Linked DNA regions of Homo sapiens. The protein of the gene in region 1 purifies or fractionates together with the protein of each later gene. This does not show direct contact. Each region holds a gene or a part of one and is shown in the gene's direction. Other genes may lie near its edges.

Evidence for each region. Proteins that work in one complex are often made in the same cells at the same time.
Region 2: the proteins of RPA1 (region 1) and TOP3A purify together in Homo sapiens (affinity purification with mass spectrometry; 4 studies listed by BioGRID and IntAct, with this or other methods). This does not show direct contact.

The regions. Positions count from the first base shown.
Region 1 is NC_000017.11:1,881,885-1,885,633, forward strand, and holds part of RPA1 (replication protein A 70 kDa DNA-binding subunit), read left to right. Parts: intron 1-1,927; coding exon 1,928-2,060; intron 2,061-3,749. UniProt on the Homo sapiens protein: As part of the heterotrimeric replication protein A complex (RPA/RP-A), binds and stabilizes single-stranded DNA intermediates that form during DNA replication or upon DNA stress.
Region 2 is NC_000017.11:18,273,395-18,277,143, reverse strand, and holds part of TOP3A (DNA topoisomerase 3-alpha), read left to right. Parts: intron 1-2,163; coding exon 2,164-2,342; 3' UTR 2,343-3,749. UniProt on the Homo sapiens protein: Releases the supercoiling and torsional tension of DNA introduced during the DNA replication and transcription by transiently cleaving and rejoining one strand of the DNA duplex.

The DNA.
Region 1 (3,749 bases):
CGCCTTGACTCCTGACGAGTGATCTTTGGTGGCAAATGTCTCCTTGGAGCTTTTGAAACCGTGAACTTGTGTAGCTAGTAGTGGTGAAACAGATGGATGGGCCTTGCTGTGCCCCTGTGAGGGATTTAGCCGCTTACCTGACAGGAGAAGGCAGCTGTCTGCAGCTCAGGGTAACATCCATTCTGTTAGATGGTCTCTGTTTAAGGAACCTGTTCTTTGTGTGGTTACCCACCTTGGGATGGTATTTGGCCTTTCATCTCCGGCCAGCTCCTCTCCGCCACCACTGTGTTCCCGAGCCACTTTCTCCTTGGCCCCTTTTCCTTCATATCAATTGATGTGTGATCAAGAAGTACAATCAGTTTTCATAATAATTTAATACAAATTAATTTAGCTTCGATATTAGCAAAAGTAAAATTTCACTAAGAAGGTAAATCTACAAGAAAAAAGATAATGCCTTCTGATAAGTTGCTCTGGTTTATAAAATCTTTTGGGCCAGGCACGGTGGCTCATACCTTAATTCCAGCACTTTGGGAGGCCGAGGTGGACAATTGCTTGAGGCCAGGAGTTCAAGACCAGCCTGGCCAACATGGTGAAACCTCGTCTCTACAAAAAATACAAAAATCAGCCGGGCCTGTAGTCCCAGCTACTCGGTGCGTGCCTGTAGTCCCAGCTACTCGGGAGGCTGAGGCACGAGAATCACTTGCCAGGAGGTGGAGGTTGCAGCGAGCCAAGTTGGTACCACCACACTCCATCCTGGGTGACAAAGCAAGACTCTGTCTCAAAACAAAAAAACCACTTTTGGCTTCTGTATCAGGCATAGGAGGCCTTTTATGGAAACACTTTTGCTACCACGGTATATTGGCTGTCCGTTTCCACACTGGTACATTTCGGTGATGATCACCACGCAGCTGCTGCCTGAGAATGAGCATTAGCAGATTAAAGGACTACCCCAGACGGCCACTTTATAGCTTACGGGTTGTTGACTTTCCCAGTTTCTGATTTTAGGCCTGGGGTGGTCTGGCCACTGCCAATATGCAAGGCTAGTTTAAGAAAAGATTCTTTGGTACTTTGGCACTGATTCTCTTCACCACTGGGGGGCATCAAAGCAACTGAGATTCAAAGAAAGGTCATTCCGTTTCTTCAGTAGACTTTGGGCCAGGAGCAGTGCCTCACGCCCTGTAATCCCAGCACTTTGGGAGGCCGAGGGAGGAGGATTGTCTGAGTCCAGGAGTTTGAGATCAGCCTGGCCAACAGAGCAAGACCCCATCTCTTAAAAAAATTTTTTTTTCGAGACGGAGTTTCGGTCTTGTTGCCCAGGCTGGAGTGCAATGGCGCCATCTCGGCTCACTGCAACCTCCGCCTCCTGAGAATTGCCTACAAGTGATTCTCCTGCCTCAGCCTCCCGAGTAGCTGGGATTACAGGCACCCACCACCACGCCCGGCTAATTTTGTATTTTTAGTAGAGACGGGGTTTCACCATGTTGGCCAGGATAGTCTTGATCTCTTGACCTCGTGATCCGCCCGCCTCATCCTCCCAAAATGCTGGGGTTACAGGCATGAGCCACTGCGCCCAGCCTAAAAAAAATTTTTTTAATGGGCCTGGGCATGGAAGTCCCAGTTACTTAGCAGGGCAAAGGTGGGAGGATCACTGAGCTCAGGGGGTCAAAGCTGCCTTGAGCCATGATTGCATCATTGCACTCCAGCCTGGGTGACAGAGTGAAACTCTGACACAATTTTTTTTAATTTAAATATTATAAAAAATATATAATTACGAAGATACCAGCTTCAGCCGACATGACCGTGACCTGTGTGAAAGCTGGGCGGGTGGTGGGAAACCTGTGTCTGTCGCGTAGCAGCAAGTTGCATGTGGAGAAGCAGAAGCATGTCACATCAAGCGCTCGTCATCGTTATTCGTTCACGTTTTCAGGTTTGACGCAGAAGGACAAGCCTTAGATGGTGTTTCCATCTCTGATCTAAAGAGCGGCGGAGTCGGAGGGAGTAACACCAACTGGAAAACCTTGTATGAGGTCAAATCCGAGAACCTGGGCCAAGGCGACAAGGTACCCAGCATTCCTAACCACCTTCACAAAGGGCTGTAAAGTGTGCAGAAGGATGGATTTAGAAACTTGGTTTCCAGCACCAGCTGTCAGAGCCGTAATTCTTACCCGGGGCTGTGACCTGAGCGTGGCATGGGGGTTGAGAATCACTGGCAGAGGGAAGCAGCCAGGTGTGCTCATGGGAATATGTGTTACCCCTCAGGGGACTGGAGGCAGGAGAGTCTGAAGAACTCTTAGAGTCAATTCCTAGAGGGATCTTGGAGCAGGGGTGACAGTCAAGCTTTGTGGTATAATATCACCTGCTTTCGGGTCCACGTTTCTTTCCTGTGATCCTTCCTGCAAATTTAAGCGCCCACATATCAAAAAGATGTTTTTTGAGATGAGCGTTAGTCCGCCTCAGGTCAGACATGAGGCAGTTTCACGGGTGCTGTTCCTGGCTGTAGAATAGTGTATTAACCTCATAGGCTGAGAGCTGCCGGCATTCCCGGACAAGGATTGGCCCTGACATTTGACTTTTAGTTGCAGCTTTTTCCTTTCAGTGTTTGTATTTAATGACCCTCCTCCCATCTTGATCTAAGCCTGTGTTCTGCCAGCAGTTTAGTATTTAGATCATTTATTTCTCCTTTACGCCTGCTCTTTTATTTTCATCATATACAGTGTAGGTTTCATTCCTCCTGTCTCATTTCACTGTATACCCTTATCCATCATTGTCAACAGCAGCTCTTAAGTGCTCTTATAGAACATCTCAAGAATTAAACACTGGACAGATCCTCGTTGTCCTGTCATGGGACACCCACTCTTTCGGTTCTCTGTAATCCCAGCTACCCAGGAGGCTGAGGCAGGTGGATTACATGAGCCCAGGAGTTCGACTGAGCAACATGGAAGACCCCTTCTCTTGAAACAAAAACTTTATTGCTGAAAAATGCTGACAATCATCTGAGTCGTAATCTTCTTGCTGGTGGGGGTTTGTTTCAGGGTTGATGGCTGAGCAGTCACGGCGATGGTTGCTGAACATCGGCGTGTCTTTGGCAGTTTCTTAAAATAAGACAGCAGTGAAGTGTGCCACATTGGTTGACTCTTCCTTTCACAAAAGCTTTCTCCATAGCCGGCGATGCTGTTTGACAGCATTTTACCCACAGGAGAACTTTTTCAAACTGGAGTCTCTCCCTCTCAGGTCCTGTCACTGCTTTATCAGCCAAGCTTATGCAAATTCTAAATCCTTTGTCGTCATTTCAACAATGCTCACAGCGTTCTCACCACAAGAGATTTCATCTCAAGAAAGCACTTTCCTTGCCCATCGTAAGGAGCAGCTCCTTATCCGTTCAAGTTTGATCGTGAGATTACAGCAGTTCAGGCCCATTTTCAGGCTCCATTTGTAATTCTAGTTCTCTCGTTATTTTCGTCACATCTACAGATCCCTCCTCCACCAAAGTCTTGAAGCCTCAGTGTCTACCTTGAGGGTTGGAATCAACTTGTTCCAAACTCCCGTTGATGTTGGGATTTTGATCTCCTCCCATGAATCATGAATGTTCCTTTTTTTTTTAACTTGAGACAGGGTCTCATTCTGTCACTCAGGCTGGAGTGCACTGGCTTGATCACAGCTCACTGCAGTCTCAACCTCCCCAGGCTCCCAAGCTGGGACTACAGGTGCTGCCACACCTGGCTAATTGTATTTTTTGTAGAGACTGAGTT
Region 2 (3,749 bases), about 16 Mb from region 1:
GGTGCAATCTTGGTTCACTGCAACTTCCACCTCCCAGGTTCAAATGATTCTCCTGCCTCAGCCTCCCAGGTAGCTGGGATTACAGGCATGCACCACCACGCACAGCTAATTTTGTATTTTTAGTAGAGACGGGGGTTTCACCCTGTTGGTTAGGCTGGTCTCGAACTCCACCTCAGGTGATCCACCTGCCTTGGCCTCTCAAAGTGCTGGGATTACAGGCGTGAGCCACCGTGCCTGGCCCAGCCTCATTTCTTCAGATGAAGATGCCAACCCCGATGATATTTAGGAACCTGCCCAGGGTGACACAGCTTGGGCCAATGTCCGGGAACTGGGTGTCATGAGAAGTGGCACCTGGACATTGCATCAAGTTGAATGGTGTACGTGGAGGCACTTTGAATGGTTCCTCCTGCTCCAGTGCACAACAGAGCTTAAGTAGCTGAGAATGACCCAAAGGCCTAGTGGGAGCTTTGGAGTTGAGCAAATCTGGTTCCAAAGCTCAGCAGTATAACCTTGAACAAATGACTTAGCCTCTCTGCCTCAAGTTTGCTCAACAAGATGGTCCCTGCCTACATTCATAGGGTTCCTGTTTTAGAAAGGAGTTTAGTCTCAGACTATGATTCTTACACATGTGTCACTAGCCCGGCATGCACAGAAAGAAACCAGAGGTTTGGTAAAAACTGTGGGACTTGGAACTGGCTACCAGTGCTAATGGGGCCCAGAGATGGCCATTGCAGTGAGAGACCCACATTTGAAGTGAGATGCAGTCTGGCCTCTTGTCTCCCCACTTGGAAGGACATGGTATCTGACCTCCAGGCTGGCTGACTGACTGTCCTGGGTAAATGAGCAGCTGGTCTGGAAAGGCCTGTTGAGGGGACAGGAAGGGATCCAGAGCTGGACTTTCCTGCATGGAGGTGGGCCGCAGGTTGCCGGTCATAGGCTGCTTGTCTTTCCCACCCTACCACACAGGCCAGCTTGCTTGGGTTTCTGCCTCTGTAAAAAGGGCCGGCATGAAAGTCCACTTACCAAGTGAGTGTGGGACAATGTCTCCAAAGCTTAGGATTCTTGAGGGAGAGGTGTCAGGTAACATAAGGCAGCAGGCACATCGCACCTCAACCTTACAGAGTTGGACACAGTGTGAAGGGAGGCTGGCTGGTGGGGTGTACATGGCTGTATAAAAACTGATTCAGCCGGTCGGGCGCGGTGGCTCATGCCTGTAATCCCAGCACTTTGGGAGGCCGAGGCGGGTGGATCACGAGGTCAGGAGATCGAGACCATCCTGGCTAACACAGTGAAACCCCGTCTCTACTAAAAATACAAACAATTAGCCGGGCATGGTGGTCGGTCCCTGTAGTCCCAGCTACTCTCGGGAGGCTGAGACAGGACAATGGCGTGAACCCGGGAGGCGGAGCTTGCAGTGAGCCAAGATTGCACCACTGCATTCCAGCCTAGGCGACAGAGCCAGACTCCACCTCAAAAAAAAAAGGCCGGGCACGGTGGCTCACGCCTGTAATCCCAGCACTTCGGGAGGCCAAGGCGGGCGGATCACAAGGTTAGGAGATCGAGACCATCCTGGCTAACATGATGAAACCCGTCTCTACTAAAAATACAAAAAATAAAGTAGCCGGGCGTGGTGGCGGGTGCCTGTAGTCCCAGCTACTCGGGAGGCTGAGGCAGGAGAATGGCGTGAACCCGGGAGGTGGAGCTTGCAGTGAGTGGAGATCACGCCACTGCACTCCACACTCCAGCCTGGGTGACAGAGCGAAGACTCCATCTCAAAAAAAAAAAAAAAAAAAAAAAAAGTTGGTTCAGCCTTATCGTCTGCTGCTCTTTTTTTTTTTTTTTTTTTTTTTGAGACAGGGTCTTGCTCTGTTGCCCAGGCTGGAGTGCAGTGGTGTGATCACAGCTCACTGTAGCCTCCCAGGCTCAGGCATCCTCCCGAGTAGCTGTGACCACAGGCATACACCACACCTGGCTAATTTTTGCATTTTTTAAAGACAAGGTTTCACCATGTTGCCCAGGCTGATCTTGAACTCCTGGGCTCAAGCAATCCTCCTCCCTCAGCTTCCTAAAGTGCTGGGATTACAGGCATGAGCCACCGTGTTCAGGACTTGCCACTTCTGCATGTCAGTTCTAACCTCACCCCTCCCCTGACTCTCCCGACAGGGACTTCTGGAGCCCCGTCCTGGACAGGAGACAGAGGAAGAACCCTGGAGTCGGAAGCCAGAAGCAAAAGGCCCCGGGCCAGTTCCTCAGACATGGGGTCCACAGCAAAGAAACCCCGGAAATGCAGCCTTTGCCACCAGCCTGGACACACCCGTCCCTTTTGTCCTCAGAACAGATGAGCTCAGGGTAGGGTAGAGAACGCCACTTTCTCAGACCTGTCCCCTTTGTGTTTAGAAATGAGTTAACCAGGACCAAGTGGCCATTTAGTGTCCTGGAAACTTAGAGGACAGTGTTGGCCTTTGGAGTCGGGCCTTCTTGTGTTAAGGGGCACAAGGTCCAGATCACTCTGGAGCAGGCCAGCTCTGCTGGACAGTGACCCTCTTCCCAGGCCTCAGGAGTGACCATAGCCACTGCTGAAAAGTCACGCAGCTGCTCCCTCGGACCCCCCAAGGATGGTTGCTGTTAGCAGAGGATTGGTGCAGTCCCAGCTGAAGCCCACTGTGTGCCAAAGGAAGAAGCTCCCAGGGCTGCTTCCTTCACCTGCAGAAAGCCCCAAGTGAGCCACCAGCACTCATGGGGCAGTCCCTGTCCAGGCTGCCCAGGGCTTCTCATAGACGTCCTGAGAAGGACGGTGTAATGCAAGGAAATGGCTGTGGTAACACTGATCCTTCAGAAGAAGCTTCATTCCCTCTTAATCTAGTTAAGCCAGGACATCCAGAATTCATTGCTTTAATAAAGAACCCAGGCCGGGTGCAGTGGCTCATGCCTGTAATCCCAGCACTTTGGGAGGCTGTGGGGGGCGGATTGCCTGAGCTCAGGAGTTCGAGACCAGCCAGGGCAACATGGTGAAACCCTGTCTCTACTAAAATACAAAAAATTAGCCAGGTGTGGCGGTGTGCGCCTGTAGACCCGGCTACTCAGGAGGCTGAGGCAGGAGAATTGCTTGAACCCGGGAGGCGGAGGTTGCAGTTAGCTGAGATTGCGCCACTGGACGACAGAGCGAGACTCAGTCTCAAAAAAAATTTAAAAATTTAAAAAAATAAAAAGAATCCAACCCCGGCAGGGCGTGGAGGCTCACACCTGTAATCCAGCACTTAGGGAGGCCAAGGCTGGAGGATTGCTTGAGATCAGGAGTTCAAGACCAGCCTGGGCAACATAGTTAGACCTTGTCTCTATTTTTAAAAATATAACAAGCACAGTTGTACACGTCTTTAGTTCAGCTGCTCAGGAGGCTGAAGTGGGAGGATCCTTTGAACCCAAGAGTTTGAGGCTGCAGCAAGCCATGATCACACCACTGCACTCCAGCCTGGGTGACAGAGTAAGACCCTGTCTCAAACTTTTTTTAAAATGAAAGAATCCAACCTTTTTTTACTCTGACCTGCGAGAGTGCAGAGGGTCTGGGGAACATTTGCAGAAGCAACAGGTACCAGCCAGTGCTGGAAGGAGCTCACCCTGGGAGGTCTCGTCAGCCTCTGTCCTTCATGGCTGTCCCTTGTGTCCCATGTGGAGAGCCCTTCCTCCCTTTCCACATGGTAAGCACTGAGCCCAATTTCTTCTCACCCCACAGATGGTCCCTCAGAGCAGAG